4 linked regions of the Homo sapiens genome follow. The protein of the gene in region 3 purifies or fractionates together with the protein of the main gene of each other region. This does not show direct contact. Each region holds a gene or a part of one and is shown on either strand. Other genes may lie near its edges.

The links. The genes of interacting proteins can lie anywhere in the genome.
Region 1: the proteins of EMB (region 3) and RASSF2 purify together in Homo sapiens (affinity purification with mass spectrometry; one large-scale study listed by BioGRID and IntAct). This does not show direct contact.
Region 2: the proteins of EMB (region 3) and FAM174C purify together in Homo sapiens (co-immunoprecipitation; one large-scale study listed by IntAct). This does not show direct contact.
Region 4: the proteins of EMB (region 3) and KIF20B purify together in Homo sapiens (affinity purification with mass spectrometry; one large-scale study listed by BioGRID and IntAct). This does not show direct contact.

The regions. Positions count from the first base shown.
Region 1 is NC_000020.11:4,791,794-4,796,539, forward strand, and holds part of RASSF2 (ras association domain-containing protein 2), read right to left. Parts: intron 4,174-4,746; coding exon 4,022-4,173; intron 835-4,021; coding exon 746-834; coding exon of another isoform or gene 740-745; intron 1-739. UniProt on the Homo sapiens protein: Potential tumor suppressor. Acts as a KRAS-specific effector protein. May promote apoptosis and cell cycle arrest. Stabilizes STK3/MST2 by protecting it from proteasomal degradation.
Region 2 is NC_000019.10:1,273,823-1,279,144, forward strand, and holds the start of FAM174C (protein FAM174C precursor), read left to right. Parts: upstream 1-1,707; 5' UTR 1,708-1,727; coding exon 1,728-2,008; intron 2,009-3,360; coding exon 3,361-3,477; intron 3,478-4,954; coding exon 4,955-4,955; 3' UTR 4,956-5,322.
Region 3 is NC_000005.10:50,412,981-50,417,726, reverse strand, and holds part of EMB (embigin precursor), read left to right. Parts: intron 1-4,746. UniProt on the Homo sapiens protein: Plays a role in the outgrowth of motoneurons and in the formation of neuromuscular junctions.
Region 4 is NC_000010.11:89,721,659-89,726,404, reverse strand, and holds part of KIF20B (kinesin-like protein KIF20B), read right to left. Parts: intron 2,442-4,746; coding exon 2,302-2,441; intron 1,386-2,301; coding exon 1,247-1,385; intron 113-1,246; coding exon 1-112. UniProt on the Homo sapiens protein: Plus-end-directed motor enzyme that is required for completion of cytokinesis. Required for proper midbody organization and abscission in polarized cortical stem cells.

The DNA.
Region 1 (4,746 bases), on a different chromosome or scaffold from region 3:
TGATTACATAAATTATCCTTTTTCCATACAGTGAAAGAATGCAGAGCTGTAAAGAATAAGGAAGTTCTTTACAAATGTATATGGAAACATTCCCCCAGATAAACTGATAAATAAAAACTGGGATCTGCACAATGCTACCACTTGTATAACTAGGGGAAGAAAAGAAACTACATCCAACCAGGCGCGGTGGCTCATGCCTATAATCCCAGCATTTTGGGAGGCTGAGGCGGGCAGATCACTTGAAGCCAGGAGTTCAAGACCAGCCTGGCCAACATGGCAAAAACCCATCAGCACTAGAAATACAAAAATTAGCTGGGCATGGTGGCCCATGCCTTTAATCCCAGCTACTCAGGAGGCAGAGGTGGGAGGATCACTTGAACCCAGGAAGCAGAGCCAAGATTGCACTACTGCACTGCATCCTCCTGAGTGACAGAGGGAGATGGGAAGGGAAGGGAAGGGGAGAGGAGGGGAGGGGAGGGGAGGGGAGGGGAGGGGGAAAGAAACTACATCCACCCATAAAGACATGTCAGTGTGTTTTGCTTATATTTGCATGGACTATCCCACGAAGGATGTTCTCGGGATGCTTCTAGGTGGGTGGATGAGGTGGGTGACTTAATTCTCTCCCTTTGTATCTTGAACCATATACATTTTATATTCTCAAAAATAAATAACAGTTTACAACATCTATCACAGCGGTCTTCACACAGTTGGTCCCTAGCTGGAAGTACCTTCCACTCACATGTACCTGTGGAGCTTGGCATCTGGTCACCCTCCGGCGGGGCATCCACCTCTGAGATCTGAACTTTGGGCACAGTCAGGGGCTTCAGAGTGGTTCTGGGAGTGGAGAAGACAAAGGGGAGGGGGGAGACTAGTTTAAGCCCTGTGGAGAGACGCCCCCGCACCCGCTGGACCCCACTCCTGAAAGGGGAGCACTTTGCTAGTGCCAGGCTGGGTACTGGCACACATCAGGTGATGAAGGGTGCAGATGGGCTGCGCGGAGCATCCCGTGAAAGGCTGGCCCAGCTCCCAGGTCAAGCAGTGGGTGGGGCAGGGGGAGTTCCGGAGGGAGAAGATGTTCTTTTGCAGCAACTGCAGTAACACACCCAACCAATTCATCAAGCCCAGGATGGATAATACCAAGGAACAAAACCCACGTGTTGCCTGCACTGCTTCTAAGCATGTATGGATTCTATGGCTTACTTGGAAAACTCTAATAGTGGCCATTCGTTTTGCAGGGTAAGATTCCAGTTTAGACTCATTGCTGTTGAAGAAATAACTCATAATTGCTTCTGGCATTCAAAAGGAATGGAAAGTAATAAGTTGGCCACAACAAGGGCAGGGGCAGCTTTGGAAGGGACACTGACAGTGTTCTCAGCGTTGCAAGGATGGAGTCCTCATCCAAGCTGAAGAAAGGGTTACAAGCAGGCAGTCCAAGCTGAGACCCTGGTTTGCCATCATAACTGGCAAATAACTTCTCAAAGCCAAAAAGGACAAAGGGAGCAGCTCAGAAAAACATCCAAAATCAACAGAGGATTTGGCTAGAAAGGAGAATCATATTTGACCAATTAGGAACAACCCATGGTGAGAAGAGCATGGGCTCCCTGGGACCCAGTAGAGATAAACCTCATGTTCTGGGGAGGATCGTTTTAAGGAAGGACAATTAAAATGGAAAATCTGAAAGAACTTCCTATTGTAATTTAACTCATATACTTCTGAACCACAGAATGGACCTGGTCAGAGCTTCTGGGGAATGGTGAACACTTGGCACCCAGAGCAGCGACTCCCACTCCCTGATTTAAAGCCTTCATTCTTGCTGAAGCAGGAACCGGTCTCAGCATCCTTATTTTTTTTTTTTATTTTATTTTTTTGTAGAGACAGGGTTTCACCATGTTGCCCAGGCTGGTCTTGAATTCCTGAGCTCAAGTGATCACCCGCCTCAGCCTCCCGAAGTGCTGGGATTATAGGCACGATCCACCACGCACAGCCTCAGGATCCTTCTTAAGACAGCAGTCTAGGCATTCACTGTATTATAGCTGACATCTAAATGACACCATTTACCATTCCTGAAAATTCTACCAAAGTATTTTGCAGAGTCAGCCAGGACCAGCTTGATGCCGCAGAGAAGGGAGAAGAAGCAGGCGGACCGAAGGACCCTTTAGCAGCCCAAACCAAAGGCCACAGGCTCAAACGAAATCTTAAAAATCATCTCACTTAGGGAATAGAATAGTCTGGGGGTCAGGGTCAGGCTGTGAAATGGGCTTGGCCATTGGCAGTCAAATACAGCAATAATACAGTATAGTATAACAAATACAGTATAGTATAACAAATACAGTACAGTGTAACAAGTACAGCTGGGCATGGTGGCTCACACCTGTAATCCCAGCACGTTGGGAAGTCAAGGTGGGAGGATTGCCTGAGGCCAGGAGTTTGAGACCAACCTGTGCAACATAGTGAGACCCCATTTCTACAAAAAACATGAAAATTATCCAGGTAGGGCCAGTATGGTGGCTCACCCCTGTGGTCCCGGAACTTTGGGAGGTCAAGGAAGGTGGATATCTTGAGGTCATGAGTTCAAGACCAGCCTGGCCAACATGATGAAACCCCCTCTCTACCAAAAAATACAAAAATGGCTGGGTTTGGTGGTGGGCACCTGTAATCCCAGCTACTCAGGAGGCTGAGGCACGAATCGCTTGAACCCGAGAGGCAGAGGTTGCAGTGAGCCGAGATCGCATCACTGCACTCCAGCCTGGGCAACAGAAAAAAAAAAGGTCGGGGTGGGGCGGTGTGCACCTATAGTCCCAGCTGCTGGGGAGTCTGAGTTGGGAGGATCACTTGAGCCTAGGAGGTTGAGGCTGCAGTAAGCTGTGATTAAGCCACCGCACTCCAGCCTGGGAAACAGAGTGAGACCTTGTCTCAAACAAAACAAAACAAAAATATGGTGATAGTGCTGAAAAGCAGAGCATGAAACCTGCAAAGTTAGATGAAACCAAAGAACCTTAACCAGACATCCTAGCACCTATGGGGTGGGCAACAATTTTCCTCCTTAAATCCCCTTGGAAAGAAACCAGACCAGCCCCAGGGCTGGCCACATAGTAGGTTTCTCTCAATTGTAGAGAAACATAGATTTGGCTGTGGAGTTTAGCAAAATGTTCAATGTGGCCAACAGAGAGGGCTTGGTTTTCATTTAAACCAGAAAAAAAGGTCACTGTGGTTTTGGCTGAGAGGCGAGCACACTCCACCCAGGCTGGGGCCGAAGGCAGTCAGCATCAGCAGGTTTCAGGATGGAGACAGGCTAGTCACTTGATCCTAAAACTCAAGTCCCAGAAAGACAATAAAGAGGGCATGCCTTGCTAGAGGCATTTGGCGGCGCATTTGGCGGCTTATTCAGCCATGGAGGATAAGGAGGGATGGACTAGGTCTTCCCAGCCCTTCTGGTGGGAACTTAGACTACCACCATCTCACCAAACCCTGGCTCCCCGTATGGTCTGCAGGGAGCAGACCCCTGGCTGATCTCGCTTGGCTGACTCTGACAGAGCCTGACATTCCTTTTCCTCTTCTAGGTTCCCCCAAGATTCAGAGAGCTTTGGTCAGAAGGTTCAAGTCATAAATGCTTTGGAGTGGGGCTATTCTATGAGGAGTGGTCCCAGTGGGGAGGGTGCTGGGGCATGGGGCGCCCTGTTAGAAATATACAGGCTGGGCCTCACTAGCCACTAGCAGCTCCACTCAGAGACTCCTGAGTTCTCCCTAAGGGAGGACTCTGACTCAGCAGCTCCCCTCGTATGACTCAGCAGCTCCCCTCCTGTGACCTCATCAGTGATTGCAGTGACAGGAAGGGGGCTCAATCACAACCACATCTGCTGCTTGTTCCTCATTCCAAGGCTAAGGCAGGTGGGCAGTAGAGGTAGTAGGAGGAGGAGCCAGGGTCAGGGCTGGCTGGAAGAAGGCAGCATTTATCTGCTTGAGAACACATAGAACACCCAAGCATCCCAGTCATCTCCCTGCCCCGTCTCTCCTCACTCACCCCTGAGCCCCCAGGTTACAGCCAGAGTGCCAGGAGGAGGAGGATGGAGGGGGTCGAATGCGTTCGTTGTCATCCTGCATCTGCAGGCGAATGGGCCGGCGCAGGCCCCAGGAGATGTTCAGGAGCCCCTCCACAATGAACTCGTCTTCTTCCTGCCCACAAAGCAATCAGAGTAGTGAGCCTAGAAAAGCCCCCACAGAAGCCAAGACCATGCTGAGGGACAAATGACACATTCTTCACATGTCCTGGCTGGGGGCCCCCAGACTGTATTCACAGGATAGGGGCAGCTGCCCAGTTCACACCGCAGCTCTGAGATACTTTCTGACGTCAACTACTCCAGATCCTGAAGCTGACCTCACAGGTCAGCACAAAAGTTGCTGTGAAATTCAAATACATAGGTATAAATTATAAAAAGCATTGTTTTTCTTTTTATCCTAATGACTTTTAAAGAAAGCGGAATACATTTCTTAAAATAAGTGAGATTAGCCTTGTTAACAGAAGCAAGAACTGGAGTTAGCTACGTCCCATCCCCTACTACGGAAAATGATGTCTCTTTAGCTACAACATCTGTTTAGCAATCCAACCTGGTGGTTGAAGGAAATTTAAAGCAACATTTGCCGAAGTTTATTCTACAGAACACTAGCTCCTCTAGCAGATGAACTGCTGTCTTTAAAAGGGTGTCAAGTGATCATGAGCTGGGAGAGGCTGTGCTAATCAGATTTCCA
Region 2 (5,322 bases), on a different chromosome or scaffold from region 3:
ACTTTGTTTTTGTTTTTTTCAATTAAGCTGGAACTAAAGTCAGGCCCAGCCATTACGCTCCCCACGTGCAGCCAGGTGCAGCCTGGGCCCAGTCATGCCTGGCTCATAGATGAAATCCCTTAAGCAGGATTGAAGACCAGTGAACGCCCCCGCCTTTTGGATTTTTTGCTCAATTGACCGTCTTTTCCAGACCTCTTTAAGTCACACTCTTAACTTAGCTTTCTCTGATGTCTGTTGCCGCCATTAGTTTTTTTCTAGAGCCCACACTGGCCCACATAGCTCCATCCCATACGGGTAGCTGGCTCCAGCTGCGCCAAGGTGCAGACCCGCCCTGGGCATGCTGGCCTGTGACGGAGCCTGAGGTCACAGCCCCCTGACTAGCCTGAGACCTTCCTAGGGGCTGTGGCTGTTTCCGGGGAGGCCGGGAGGGGCAGCTGTGAGCCCTGTGGAGGACGTTGGGAGTAACGCTGCTTTGCTTTGGCAGGTTGAAGGGGCCCGGCCAGGACTCGGGGAAGGGTGGCCTGAGAGCAGCGATGACCTCTGGGGTCACTGTCCCAGGAGGGACTTCACCTGGAACAAGAGCTGGAGGCAGCCGCTTGCCCAGGAGGCTTGTCCCCTGTAAGTGCTTTCGGGAAGAGTGGCATGTGGCGCTGAGCCCTGTCCCGGGCGGCACCTGGGCGTTTCAGTGAGTCCTGCTCTCCCGCACCTATGGCCCCATGGCGGGCGCCTTTCGGTGTGTGTTGGGTGCAGGGCAGCGCCTCCCGGGAGCGCCGGGTCCCCCGCCTGGAGCCCGCGCCTGTTCTCCCTCCCTTCCTCCTCCTTCCAGGAGGCGCTTCGCCAGTGAGGTGCGGGCTCAGGGCCTCGAGTCTCTCCTGGAGCACGGGCTGCGGTGCGCCGGCAGCTTACGGGGCGGCCAGTCCTTGCCCACAACGATGTGGAGCCCTGTGAAAGTCGGATTCGAATAAAGGGCCACGTGTGCACCCAGAAAGCCGAGTCTGTGGTTCAGGGGGGTCTGTCGGCGGAGCGGGGCCACTGGAAGAAAAGCCTGCGGACCTCGGTTCAGCGCACGAGTAGGACCCGACAGGGAAGACTGCAAGGGTCATTGTCCGAGCAGTGACCGCGGGGGGCTCGCCACTGAGGGGGTTCGCAGCGCGGAGACTCCAGTCTCGCGGGATCTGAGGCGCACTCGGCTTCGAGGGAGCGGCGGCCGCGCAGCCGCTGTCAGGCCCCGTCTTGGGCCGAGTCCCGGGTTCCCTGTAGCAGGCTTGGGAGCGGGGCGCCACCTTCCTGGGCCCTGGACGTGGCCGACGCGTTCTCAGTGTCCGTGAGGCCGGGGCAGGAGTGGCGGGGGTCGCCCCGAAGTGGGTGGGAATGAGCGGCCCGAGGTCCTGAAGTCGGGGTCCGCCCCGTCTCCCCGCTGCCAGCCCGATTTCCTCGGAAGCCGCGACCCCCCACGCTGGGCTGGCAGTTCTGGGCTCTGCCGGCTGCGCCTTGCCGGGACTCCCACGGGCGGGCTCCGGGCCTCCGTCCTGATCCCTTGGAGCGGTTCGACGAAGCAAGTTCCGCGGCGGGCGCGCGGGGCACTGTGGGTAGCGCCGGGGCTCACCAGGCGGAGGCGGGGCCCGGCGTCAAGCTCCGCCTCCGCGCCCCATTGGCTGGCATCACCTCCGCGCGCCTGACTGACAGCGCGCATAGGGGCGGGGCGCCGCCACCGCTTCCGCCGGGCCATGGGGCCGCGCGTGCTGCAGCCGCCGCTGCTGCTGCTCCTGCTGGCGCTGCTGCTGGCGGCGCTGCCGTGCGGTGCCGAAGAGGCCTCGCCGCTGCGCCCCGCGCAGGTCACGTTGTCGCCGCCGCCGGCCGTGACGAACGGGAGCCAGCCGGGCGCGCCACACAACAGCACGCACACGCGTCCGCCGGGGGCGTCGGGCTCGGCGCTGACGCGCTCCTTCTACGTGATCCTGGGCTTCTGCGGCCTGACCGCGCTCTACTTCCTGATCCGGGCGTTTAGGTGCGTCAGGCGCACGTGGGCGCCGTCTCTCAGCCTTGGCCAATTAGCGCGCGCCTAGTGCGTCACGTGCCGGGCCGCGGGGTCCTCCCCTCCCTCCCTCCCTCCCTCCCTCTCTCCCTGTTGGAGTGGGCGTGGGCGGTGCTGTGCGGGGTCGTCACGTGGTGTGGGCGGTGCAGGGGCCACGGGACTCACCCGCTCTCCAGCCTGCGCCTGGGGTTGGAGGTGCCCAGCGCGCCGCCTCTTAACTCGGGGGTGACGCTGCCCGTTTCCCAGGTGGGGCCACTGAAGCCGGAGCATGCCGGGCAGGGGTCAGGCCCTGGCGGGGCGAGGGGGCCTCCTTGGCTCCTTGTCGCCGGATGCCCGTCCTCGTTCTCATCTTCCCGCCTGCCGCCAGGCCTTTCCGTGGGGTCCCGATATTTTCCTTTCTGCTTCTACCCACTGAAGCTGGTTCGTCGCCAGGGTCGGCCACGTGCCCGCCTTGGGTGCTCCCACAGCCCGGGAGGTGCAGCTGCGTCCCCAGACCCTCGCGGGGGTCTCCAGCTGTAGGCAGCCCCTGGGCAGGAGGGGCTTCTGCGTGTTCAGGCCACCCCGGCTTCCCTGGCCTGTGGCTCCAGTCTCCTCTGGGCTCCTGACTACCCAGTGTGGCTGCTTCTCCCGGGTGGGAGAGACACAGCGAGGACCTTATCCCTCCCCATCACCACCCTGGCAAAGTCAAGCCGCTTTTTATTTTTTATAAGTTTTTATTGTAGCGATGGGGTCTCGCCATGTTACCCGCGCTGGTCTGAACTCCTGGGCTCAAGTGATCCTTTTTCGTTGGCCTCCCAAAGTGCTGGCATTATAGATGTGAGCACCTGCACTCCGCCATGCTGCTTTTTATGGGCCCTGTGCAGAGCCTCCCCTGTGCTCCACACCTCTTCCTGTGGAAGCACCTGCTGCGCGCTCTCCCCTGCCTGTATGCCGCGCCCTCCCTGCCTCCCGGGCTGCTGGGGCCACCAGGGGCTTGGCCCTGAGACAGGCTTCCATTCTGTTGTCTTTGGCAAAGTCTCACCCCTGTGTGAGCCTCAGTCTTTTCATCAGTGCAATGGGAGTGACATCAGCGTGCCTCTCCTGGGGTCCTGGCGCAGGGGAGATGGGAGGGCCTGGTAGGGCACATGTCTTCTTACTGTCATCGCCATGGGAGTGAATGGTAATCACTTGGCGATTAGGACATGAAAGAAGCAGGCACAGCAAAACCAGGGAGGTCTGCAGCAGGGCTCGGGGCTCCAGTAGAGGACGGCAATGAGAGTCCTGAGGGAAGGAGGAGGCAGGGTTGGCGGGGAGGGGCCACTGACTATGCCTGGACCTACTTCCAGGTTGAAGAAGCCTCAGCGGAGGCGATACGGCCTCCTCGCCAACACTGAGGACCCCACGGAGATGGCCTCGCTGGACAGCGACGAGGAGACGGTGTTTGAGTCCCGGAATCTGAGATGGTGTGCACCCTTCCCCAGCTCTGGGGCCTCGGTGGGCAGGCTGGGCTGGAGACTCAGCAGGACCCTGGGGACTTGGCCAAGCCATGGAGTGGTCCCTGCAATCACAGCTGACAGCGGTAGTCAGGCCATGGCCCCACTGGGCAGGGCTCATCCCTTCTCCCAGCCTCCATTTACAACTTTTTTTTTTTAAACTTAAATGTTTGTCATTTATTTATTTTTGAGGTGGAGTGGCGCGATCCCAACTCACTGCAACCTCCGCCTCCGGGATTGAGGCGATTTTCCTGCCACAGCCTCCCGAGTAGCTGGGATTACAGGCACCCGCCACCACGCCTCGCTAATTTTTTGTATTTAGTAGATAGAGATGGGGTTTCACCATGTTGGCCAGGCTGGGTTCCAGCTCCTTACCTCAGGTGATCCATCTGCCTGGGCTTCCCAAAGAGCTGGGATTACAGGTGTGAGCCACCGCACCTGACCTAAGTTTTGTTTTGTTTTGAGATGGAGTTTCGCTCTTGTTGCCCAGGCTGGAGTGCAATGGCACGATCTCTGCTCACTGCAACCTCCACCTCCCAGGTTCAAGCATTTCTCCCATCGCAGCCTCCTGAGTAGCTGGGATTAAAGGTGCTCACCACTACACCCGGCTAATTTTTGTAGTTTTAGTAGAGACAGGGTTTCACCATGTTGGCCAGGCTGGCCTCGAACTCCTGACCTCAGGTGATCTGCCCGCTTCGGCCTCCCAAAGTGCTGGGATTACAGGTGTGAGCCACCGTGGTCAGCCTTCTTGCTTTTTTAAGGCAGGAAAGCGGCTGCAGGGCTTAGGGTAGTGGTTGCTCCATCTGGGCCCCTCCCTGAGGGATGAGGTCTAAGTCAGGTGGAGAACTGACTGCAGGATGCTTCTGAGCGGGCGGGGTCAGGGAGGGCCTCTCCCTGGTGTAATGGGGCTGGCTTCTGGAAGAGTGTCTCAGGCCGAGGGAACAGCAGGGAGCGGCCGGGCTGCGCAGATGCCGGGCGGGACTGGGGTAGGCCTGGGCATCGAGGCAGCTGTCAGGGGTTAGCAGGGTTCTGGGCAGGGAATGATGGGTATGTTGCGCTGCAGTGTGGCTGCTGGGGGGACCTTGGCCTGTTGGGGGGTGGCAGGCATGGAGGCTGGGAGACCAGGAGACTGGGCGGCCTCTGGGGACAGCTCTGACTTTTTGAGCCCCCAGGGAGGGAGGCACTGGGATCCCTCCGCATGCTCTGACTCCATTCTGGGAACCCCTCCCAGGTTTCTTCTACCTCCTGGCTGGGGGCCCCTTCCCCCGGAGTGGGCAGTTGCACAGGGCCCAGGAGGCCGGGGAGGGAGGCCAGTGGGGGGAGGCTGGGCCCTGGTAGACCGAGGGGCCTGGACAGGCTGCCTGCCCCTGCCTGACCTGGGTGAGCCTCTGCCCGGCAGGGCGGGCCCTTCACTCCTTCCCTCTCACCCTTGACCCCCTGCTTTCAGATGCTGAGCCAGGGAGGCGGCCCTTCCAGCAGCCATGAGGGAAGGACAGGAGATGGGGCCCACCCCAGTGCCCAGCAACCCCCTGCTCCACCGCTCATTCCCCTGCTGGCCCCGGGGCTGGTCTCACCCAGTGCCAACCCGAGAGCTCCTTTTGGAACCTGCACAGCCCGCCGACCTGTTGCCACCTGCACCCACCGCTGGACCATGCAGCCTCGCCTCCTGGATGCTGTCCCAGCCTGGCCGAGGGTCCCAGGTGAAGACTGGAGGGACCCCAACAGCCACCGCCCAGGACGCTGAGGCTCCCTTGCCTGACTGTGACTTGTGCCTCTCTCCTGCCCCCGTGGGGACATGGCAGCCCAGAGCCAAGG
Region 3 (4,746 bases):
ACCAGCCACATAGTTCATAGGTCTTGAGGGAGTCTCCAGGGATTACTTGGAGATTTTATATACATATAAAAAAGTATATCAAGGTATATGTACTACATTTTACTCAAGTTGGGTTTATATAATTTCAGGTTTCTCTGTGCACATTGGTGATTTCACATTTTAAGTTTATGGGATTCAGGAAGCACGTGTGTTTTAGGCTGTATCACATTGGTGTGGCACTAATCAGATGGCATGTAAATAACTTGTTGATAGGATCACTTAATAAACCATCATGATTCTTCAATCCATATGAGACTTATTTGGGAGAGAAGTGAAATTACAAGAATCAAGGGATTAGTATTATGTTTTATAAATTTTGGATATAAACTTTGAGAATTTTATTCTTATTCATAAGTTAACTCCATATGTTTAAGACGCACAACATTAATGATAAAAATAAGATCCATTGTATCATTTTTATATAGGGGTGTTGGCCTCATGTTAGTGTGGCCTTCTGTTTCTGTAAGGATTCTGGATGTTTAATAGACATTTTGGGTTGCATCATGAAGCTTTATTGACTTTTATGGTGAAATTATTACAGGGCAGGTGAATCCGAACATTGGGGTTTAGCCCGAGAAGGTTGGCTCAGGAAAGAATTCAAGAGTGAGCTGGTGGTAGAAAAATCAGCTTTATTGAGGCAGGGTTGTTACAGCTCTGTGACTTCTCCTTCAGAGCAGGGGTACCCCTGGGCAGTGTGTCAAGAGTAGCAGCTCAGGGCCAGTTCTGCAGCCATGTTTATACTACTTTTAATTATGTGCAAATTAAGGGACAAGGTATTCAGAAATTTCTAGAAAACAGAAGGTAACTTCTGGGTCATTGCCATGGAAAGGGATGGTAACTTCTGGGTGTAGCCATGGCAATGGTAAACTGTCATGGTGCTGGTGGGTGTGTCTTACGGAGAGGATCTTTCGTTGCCTCTTCCTTGTTTCTGTCAGTCTTCAATCTGGTCCAGAGTCACATTCCACCTCCTACCTCATTATGAATAATGAAAAGTCAGGCTGATAGGGCTCTGTATTTTCTATCTTGGCTTCTGTCAGAGTTGTCCCATCGAATCCGTCGTATATGTCACAGTTCACTTAACTGTGTTTAGTAAGGGTTTCTATCTTTAAAGCATGTTTGGAAACACTATCCTATGCAATAAATTTTAATTGGCTTCTTCCATATTTTCTTTTTCTTAATAAAGAACAAAGCAGACTTTTATTTCTAGTGAAATGGTTTACAAGATTGGGTCCTGAATAGACCCAAGAAAATCTAAATGTCATTTCTCTGAAGACTGCAAATTGTTGAAAGGCCCATATACTTTAAAAATGTTACCTATGAAAATAAGAAATTATTTAGACAGGTATAAATTACTATATGGTTTTAAGAACAGTCTTGAAAATACGTTTCAAAAACAACAAATTGTTATCGTTTTAGAAATGCAGATGTCATAGATGTTTTTGCAGCACTCTAAAGCAGCAAAAATGCATTGCAGTTGTGCAGTATTAAGGAAGTTGAAACATCGTTGACTGAGCTCACATTAGTTTGTTGGCTAACCACAAAATATGTAAAAAGGTAGAGCTTTTTGCATGTTTTTGATGCTGTGATTTCTTGACAGGAAGGAAAGCAAACTGCAGAAGCACAGCAAACTGCAGAAGCACCTGCAAAGTATTATAGGAAACAGTGAGACAACGATTAGGGCTTGGAGGATGGCCTACCATTAAGAAAAACTGTGTTGCACTTTAAGTTATGTAAAACTATGTTTAGTTGAAAATGTGTATTTTTAAAATATTTTGATTGCACTGTTCATTTTATCATCGCATTCATATTGGTATATAGCTACACTGTACATTTCTTTAATCTTCTATTAATATTTTCTTTTATTTAAAATCTTGTTTCAACAGTTTGAAGGTGATGAAGTTAATTCCATTGTAATGAGAATTTAATATGTTTGAGAGTTGGTATATTCTGTTGGTTATCACAGTCTGGACTCAGGCATACCTAAATCTGAGATTCAGTGTTGCCTTTGTCTTGATGTGTAATCTTAGACAAAATAGCCTCTCTTTGCCTCATCTCTAAAGTTGGAATTGTAGCAGTGATACTTACCTCATAAAGCTGTTGTGAAGATTAAATTATTTAATCAACATATAACCCTTAGCACCATATATGATAGTTTTTATAATATTCCCCAGTGAGATAATGGTGAGAAGAAGTAAGTGGGCATTTATTAATTGCTATATTATATTACTGTTGACGTTTCTTATGATAGAACTTTTTACAATCTCATGGAATATTATTGTCCCACCTTACAAATAAGGAAACTGATGTCTAATACAAAGATACTTTGATTTGCACATGCAAGGTATAGAATCAAGGCAGTTAAACAATTTGAGTTTTGCTTAAATTGCTCCAACCAAAGTTGTCCTTTGGTTGGAGCAAGAGAAGCTGGCCAAGAGAAATTAGATAATTTACCTGGTCTTGGTGAAAGATAATGAAGGCCAATAATAGGAGGGTTGGATAAAACTGGGCAAATTTGTTTGACATTTTAGCGGTAGAATCAACTAAATACTACTGCATGTGATTCAGTGTTATAGGTCAGCACAAGGGAATATTAATGGATCTCTTGGATATTTTGAGTTTGAAGTTCTCATGGGATATCCAGATTTAGATGCTCCGTAGACACCTGGAGCTGTAAAATAAAAAAACGACTTCAGTGGAGGTTCTAATTTTGCAAGTAAAGAGCATTAGAGTTAATAGTTGAATCCAACAAAGAAGTGCCAAATTGAGAAGTAAAGAGACCAGAGAGCAAAATCCTGATGGGCACCAACATTTAAAAGGTAGTTGGAATAATTTGGTGTGGCTAGCAAAATGTTTAAAATATACTAGGATAGTGAAATAGAGCACAGTAAAGGGAACTGCAAGGAATAAGGTAGTCTCTGGCAATATATGTATTCTAGAGACATCAAATATTATTTTTCTTTTTGAGCATTAAATTCAATTCAGCAATTTTGCAATTTTACAAGCAGTTATTTCAAGCATGTGCTCACAAAGCACTTTGCACGAGCTGTACTTCACTATCTGCAAACCTTGCATCTGGTCCTTGCTTATGGAAGCATTTCGTAAAGTTTCAAATGTAATTAAAAGTGATAGAATTTTTTTTTTTTTTTTTTTTTTTTTTTTGCCTGAGACAGGGCCCTGCTTTATCACCTTGCCTGGCGTGCAGTAGTGCCACCTTAGCTCACTGCAGCCTCAACTCTCGGGCTCAAGAGATCTTCCCACCTCTACCTGAGACTAGATGGGACCACAGGCATGCACTACCAAGCCTGGCTAATTTTTTCTTTTTTTTTGTGGAGATGAGGTCTCACCATGTTGGCCAGGCTGGTCTGGAATGCCTGTGCTCAAGCAATCCCACACACCTCAGTCTCCCAAATTACTGGGATCACAGGCATGAACCATTGCACCTGACCATTTTATTTGAGTTGTATTATTTTTCTTTCTACATTTTGGCTCTGCATTCTACATTTCATCATACTATACCATTATTGAGAATGAGAAGAGCTTGAGAAATTTGTTTATATGATATACTACCGTCTTCCAAACACAACTCCTTCTCTTCCCCTTAAGAGTAATTACCACTATTCTGATTTTTATGCAGTCACTTTCTTGCTTTTCTGTATTGCTTTATTACCCAGGTATGCATCCCTAAATATTACAGTTCAGTTTTGCTTTTCTTTTAATAGTATTTTTTGAGTATCTTATAATCTTCAGGTGCCCCAAACATAGCACCTGACGTCCGATACAAAGACATCTCTCTCCCTTTTAAAATTTGTCTATTGAAAAAACCAGGCCAGGTGCGGTGGCTCATCACTTTGGGAGTCCAAGGCAGGCAGATCGCCTGAGGTCAGGAGTTTGAGACTAGCCTGGCCAACATGGTGAAACCCCATCTCTGCTAAAAATACAAAAAAATTAGCCAGGCATGGTGGCAGGCGCCTGTAATCCCAGCTACTTGGGAGGCTGAGGCAGGAGAATCGCTTGAATCCGGGAGGCGGAGGTTGCAGTGAGCTGAGACGACACCATTGTACTCCAGCCTGGGCAACGAGGCTCCATCTCAAAAAAAAAAAAAAGAAAGAAAGAAAAAGAAAAAACCAGATCATTTATTTGTAGAATTTTCCCAGAATCTGGATTTTGTTGATTACTTTCATGAAATGTAGGTTAATGTGTTCTTCTATAATCCATGTTTCCTGTAAACTGGGAATTGGATCCAGAGACTTAACCAGTTTCAAGAACCTCCTCCAGCACCTTTTTTTAACAAGACTATATCCTAGGTAGTGGGGTATTCTTCCTCAAGAGAGACATAATTCTGTTTTTGAAATTATTGCAGCAGTTGATGCAAAATGCCTAGATCCATGATTCACTAGGGGTTGCAGCATCATTATGGTATATTTGTATGATTTCTTTTTTATTCATTTGCTGGAATTTTTCTATAAAGAGAACGTTTATTTTCTCTACTGTTTGGTTAGCCAGTGATACAGTTAGTGTAGGACAAACAAGGTACATGCTTAATATTTTTTCTTTATTTGCCACTGTTCAAAATTAAAGTTAGTTTTTTTGTGTTTTCCCTAAGTGTGTGTGTGTGCGCGTGGGCGCGTGTGTATGTATGTGTGTATTGTTGGATAGTTAGTGGTTGGGAACTTGAGGGTTAAACTGAAGAAAGAAAAGACAAGTAGA
Region 4 (4,746 bases), on a different chromosome or scaffold from region 3:
CAGGAAGAGATGCAATATATAAGTGAGCAATTTCAGCCTGTTTCTTAATATCAGCAACATTATCTTGAAGAGAATCAATAATATCTTCAAATCCTACATAATTATGTGTTTCCTAAAAATAGCAAAAACCACATGCCTAATATTAACAGTAGGGTTCACCCTTTACATGTGGTACCATCTAATTTAGACAGTTTTTAAAAAAGCAAAAAATTCATCACTTGAAATTCTTTAAAATAAATTATATAGAAGCAACTCCAATTATGAAAAACCTGTGTTCCATTATTTATTTTCTGCTGTATGGACCATGAGGCATATTTTCGCATAAAAACAATGTTACAAACTGTGACAAGTCATTATAGAACAATTATGATTACCTAGTTCAGGTATACTTTCAATTATATAATGAGACTTAAAAGGTTTTGTTGGGATAGTGCATGAAACAAACCTACATTTTCACAACTCAGTCAATCCCAAACCACGTCAAGGATACATAAGGTTTGCTTGACAGCAGACGTCTGGACATCACTGTCACAGGCACTTGAACTGAGTGATTAAAAAACTAAACAAAAACAAAAAAAAACCAACTCCCCCAAAAAACTGATCAATTTCAGCTTCAGTGGAAGCAGCAGAAAAGGATAATTTTTCTTATATTACAAGTAGAGAATAAGCTGAGCACAGTGGCGTGCACCTGTAATCTCAGCCACCTGGGAGGCTGGGCAGGAGGACTGCTTGAAGCCAGGAATTCAAGATCAGCCTGGGTAACACGGCAAGACCCTAACTCTAAAACTATAATAAATAAATAAACAAATAAAATTTTAAAAGAGTAAGAAACGGTAGTTGCCCGGCAAGGGCAACCCTTTTTATACATAAACATTTTTGTTTTAATCAGAACAGCAAGTAAATGACGTCTTAGGTCTCTTACACCTTTAAAATTCTTTTTATTTAAAAATGTTAAGTAAGACAAATCTCAAAAAAGAATCTATCTGCCTACAACACAATGATTCAAGCAATACCAAAATAAGATATATATATATATAACAGAGGTATAAATTTTTCAAAACCAATCATTATATTTAAATTCTTGGTGCCTTACACTTCTAAAAAAACATGCCTAATTATAATAAAGCTACACACAAAGCATTGTTTTAATTCTAAACTATCTTGGTGTTTCTCATCATTGATGTGGTACACTAAACCCTGGTACCAAAACCTCACTGGATATTTTTAAATACTTCAATTAACATACTTCAGTTTCAACTTTTGTGGCACAAATGTCTTTCGCTGCTTCTTCTCGAGTGTCACATTTACCAACCAAATCCTTGAAGATAGCCAAACGACGTTCAGCATTTTCTTCTAATATCTCTCGTTCTTGAAGCAGAGTCTCCCTTCAAAATACAAATTAATCCCATTAAGAAACAGAAAACGAACTACTTTGTGTTTTTGTTTTAAACATCTAAGTTTAAGTATATTCTAGATTAAAAGAAAATTTAGTCCAGGTACAGTGGTTCACGCCTGTAATCCCAGCAATTTGGGAGGCGGAGGCGGGTGGATCACTTCAGGCCAGGAGTTTGAAACCAGCCTGGCCAACACAGCAACACCGTCTCTACTAAAAACACAAAAATTAGCTGGGCGTGGTGGTGTGTGCCTGTAATCCCAGCTACTCAGGAGGCTAAGGCAGGAGAGGCTAAGGCAGAAGAATTGCTTGAACCCAGGAGGTGCAGGTTGCCGTGAGCCAAGATCGCACCACTCAATACCAGCCTGGGTGACAGCACAAGACTCCATCTCAAAAAATTAAAATTTAAATTTAAAAAAGAGAGAAAATTTAAATAACCATGCATGGGATTAGTTACAGCTATATTCTTTTTTTTCTTCTCTGAGACAAGAGTCTCACTCTGTCGCCCAGGCTGGAGTGCAGTGACACAATCTCAGCTCACTGCAACCTACACCTCCCAGGTTCAAGAGATTCTCGTGCCTCAGCCTCCTGAAAGCAGCTGGGACTTCAGGAACATGCCAGTACGCCCAGCTAATTTTTCTATTTTTAGTACAGACGAGGTTTCACCATGTTGGCCAGGCTGATCTCGACCTCCTGACCTTCAGTGATCCGCCTGCCTAGGCCTCCCAAAATGCTGGGATTACAGGCGTGAGCCACCGCACCAGACCAGTAACAGCTATTTTCAAGCTTGTATAAAGAGATCAGAATTCAGAAGCCACCTAATATAAAAAGTAAACTAAGTAAAAAAAAAAACTAAAAAACTAAATAAAATTCTCAATTTTTACCTGGACATGAAATAAATAACTTACTTAAAGTCAGCTTCCCGTTGAGCCCAATACTGAGTAAACTCCTGTGTAACTTCTTCTCGAATTTTAAATTCCAAGGTTAATTTTTCCTTTTTTTCATTTATCAGTTTTTTTTTCAAGTCTTCTATTAAGTCCAACAGTTTCTATTACATGTAAATGATAAAATTCTTATAAAAGAATAAATATATCCCAAGAGAAATACCGTCCAACTGTTCAAAAAATAAAACTTTACATTTAGTCAATTGTAATTCTGTGTCCTTTTTAATAGTGATAATGTTCTCACTGAAAATTATATGTTTGCAAAGATTTGTTAACTGAAAAATCAGGTTGGCCTTTCCACATTTTAGAAATAGACCTTTGGTAACTCGTCTCACTGTTTAGCTATACTAAGAAAATAAGTAAAGTTAATTAGTGCATTTATTATCTATCAAGAACTACTCTGGGGAGTTCCATATTTGCTTCATTTAATCCACAACTTTCTGTGAGCTTGGTATCATCCATATTTCACAGGTGGGAAGCATAAGGATCAGATCTCTGGTAAATGCTAAAGGTTGAGTTTAAAAGTGGCCTGTAAAAGTCTAAAGCCCAAGGATTGCATACACCAGAGAAGTTGCTAAGAACACCCACTTACTAATCTGTCAAATAAAGATGTTACATAAACTTATATTAGGCTTTTATAACTATCCAGATGTCAACAGCAATTCTATAGCCTTTGAAACACATACATAATCATGAAAAATGTGCAATATATAAATAAAGCAATAAATAAAACACTTAACATGACCATTATACATTCATAACATAAATTGTAGCATTAAGGAAACAGCTACATATTCTTTTTAATGTTTCTATTTAAAGTTACTCAACAACAAATTAAACAATAAACTCTAAGCTACAGATCTTCCAATGTCTCAACTTTATATTTGAAAATAGTTCTACAGCTATCCAGACTTTGAAACTCTGCCTCCAAGAATTTATACTGAAAATAATTATAATATAACCCCATGTTCTGGTTGTATGAATGCTGATCACAGTGTTGTTGTTTTGTGATGGTAGTTGTGTTTAAATAATGAAAAAGTGAACCCAACTCAACCAATGTTAAAGGATTGGTTTAATTATGGTACTACCATAAACTACCGTAATCAATGATAACCTATATTAATAATTCATACTTTTCACAATTTATTTTTATATAAAGAATACCAGGTTACAAAACAGTAATATATAATAAAAATCCATTAACATTCATGGTAGATTTGAGAGATCTTTATATTTAGATTTTCTTTTTCACTCTACTATAAATACATAATACTATTTTAATAATTTTAAACTACATACTTTCTGAGTAAAACAATAAATAATAACTATTGAAGGAGACATCAGAATGAATGTGGAAAAACCTTGGGAAGTTTGTTTATTTTATTTATTTATTTTTTTTGAGACGGAGTCTCACTCTGTCGCCCAGGCTGGAGTGCAGTGGCTCGATCTCGGCTCACTGCAACCTCCGCCCCCCAGGTTCACGCCATTCTCCTGCCTCAACCTCCCGAGTAGCTGGGACTACAGGCGCCAGAAACCACGCCTGGCTAATTTTTTGTATTTTTAGTAGAGACAGGGTTTCACCGTGTTAGCCAGGATGGTCTTAATCTCTCAACCTCATGATCCACCCACCTTGGCCTCCCAAAGTGCTGGGATTACAGGCATGAGCCACCGCGCCTGGCGGGAAGTTTAATAGTTTTCAATAATTAGGTTTTATCATTGTTAGCATCTGATAAAGTTTTTGCTGAAAAAATTTAGGCTGGCTATTACAGCTAAACGAATTTAAGTATATGTATGCTAATACCAAGGTATTTTATAATGGTTTTTAAAAGTCCCAATCCTTTAATTAAAATGTCAAGAAAGGGCTGGGCACATTGACTCACATCTGTAATCCCAGCGCTTTGCAAGGCAGGAGGATTGCCTGAGCCCAAGGGTTCAAGATCAGCCTGGGCAATAGAGCAAGGCCTCATGTCTACAAAACATTTTTAAAAATTAGTTAGGGGTGGTGGCATGCATCTGTGGTCCCAGCTACTCAGGAGACTGAGGCAAGAGGATCACTTGAGCCCAGGATTTCGAAGCTGCAGTGAGCCATAACTACACTATTGCACTCCAGCCTAGGTAACAGAGCAAGACTTTGTCTCTAGAAGAAAAAAATAAAGCATGCCAACACCTAATCATATTGATTTTTAAATGTCAAATATTAGACATTTTGATGAATTTCCTTAAAATATTTAGTCAATCTTATATGATAAGCATTTATACTATATAATCCATCATAAACTATAGCATTAAATATTTTTCTCTAGTAATTTCAGAAATTTTACTAACCAACATTATACAAAAATTTCAACTTTGAAATGAAAAAAAAAAACTGGGTTTTTTGGTTTGTTTCTTTGTTTTTAAGACAAGGTC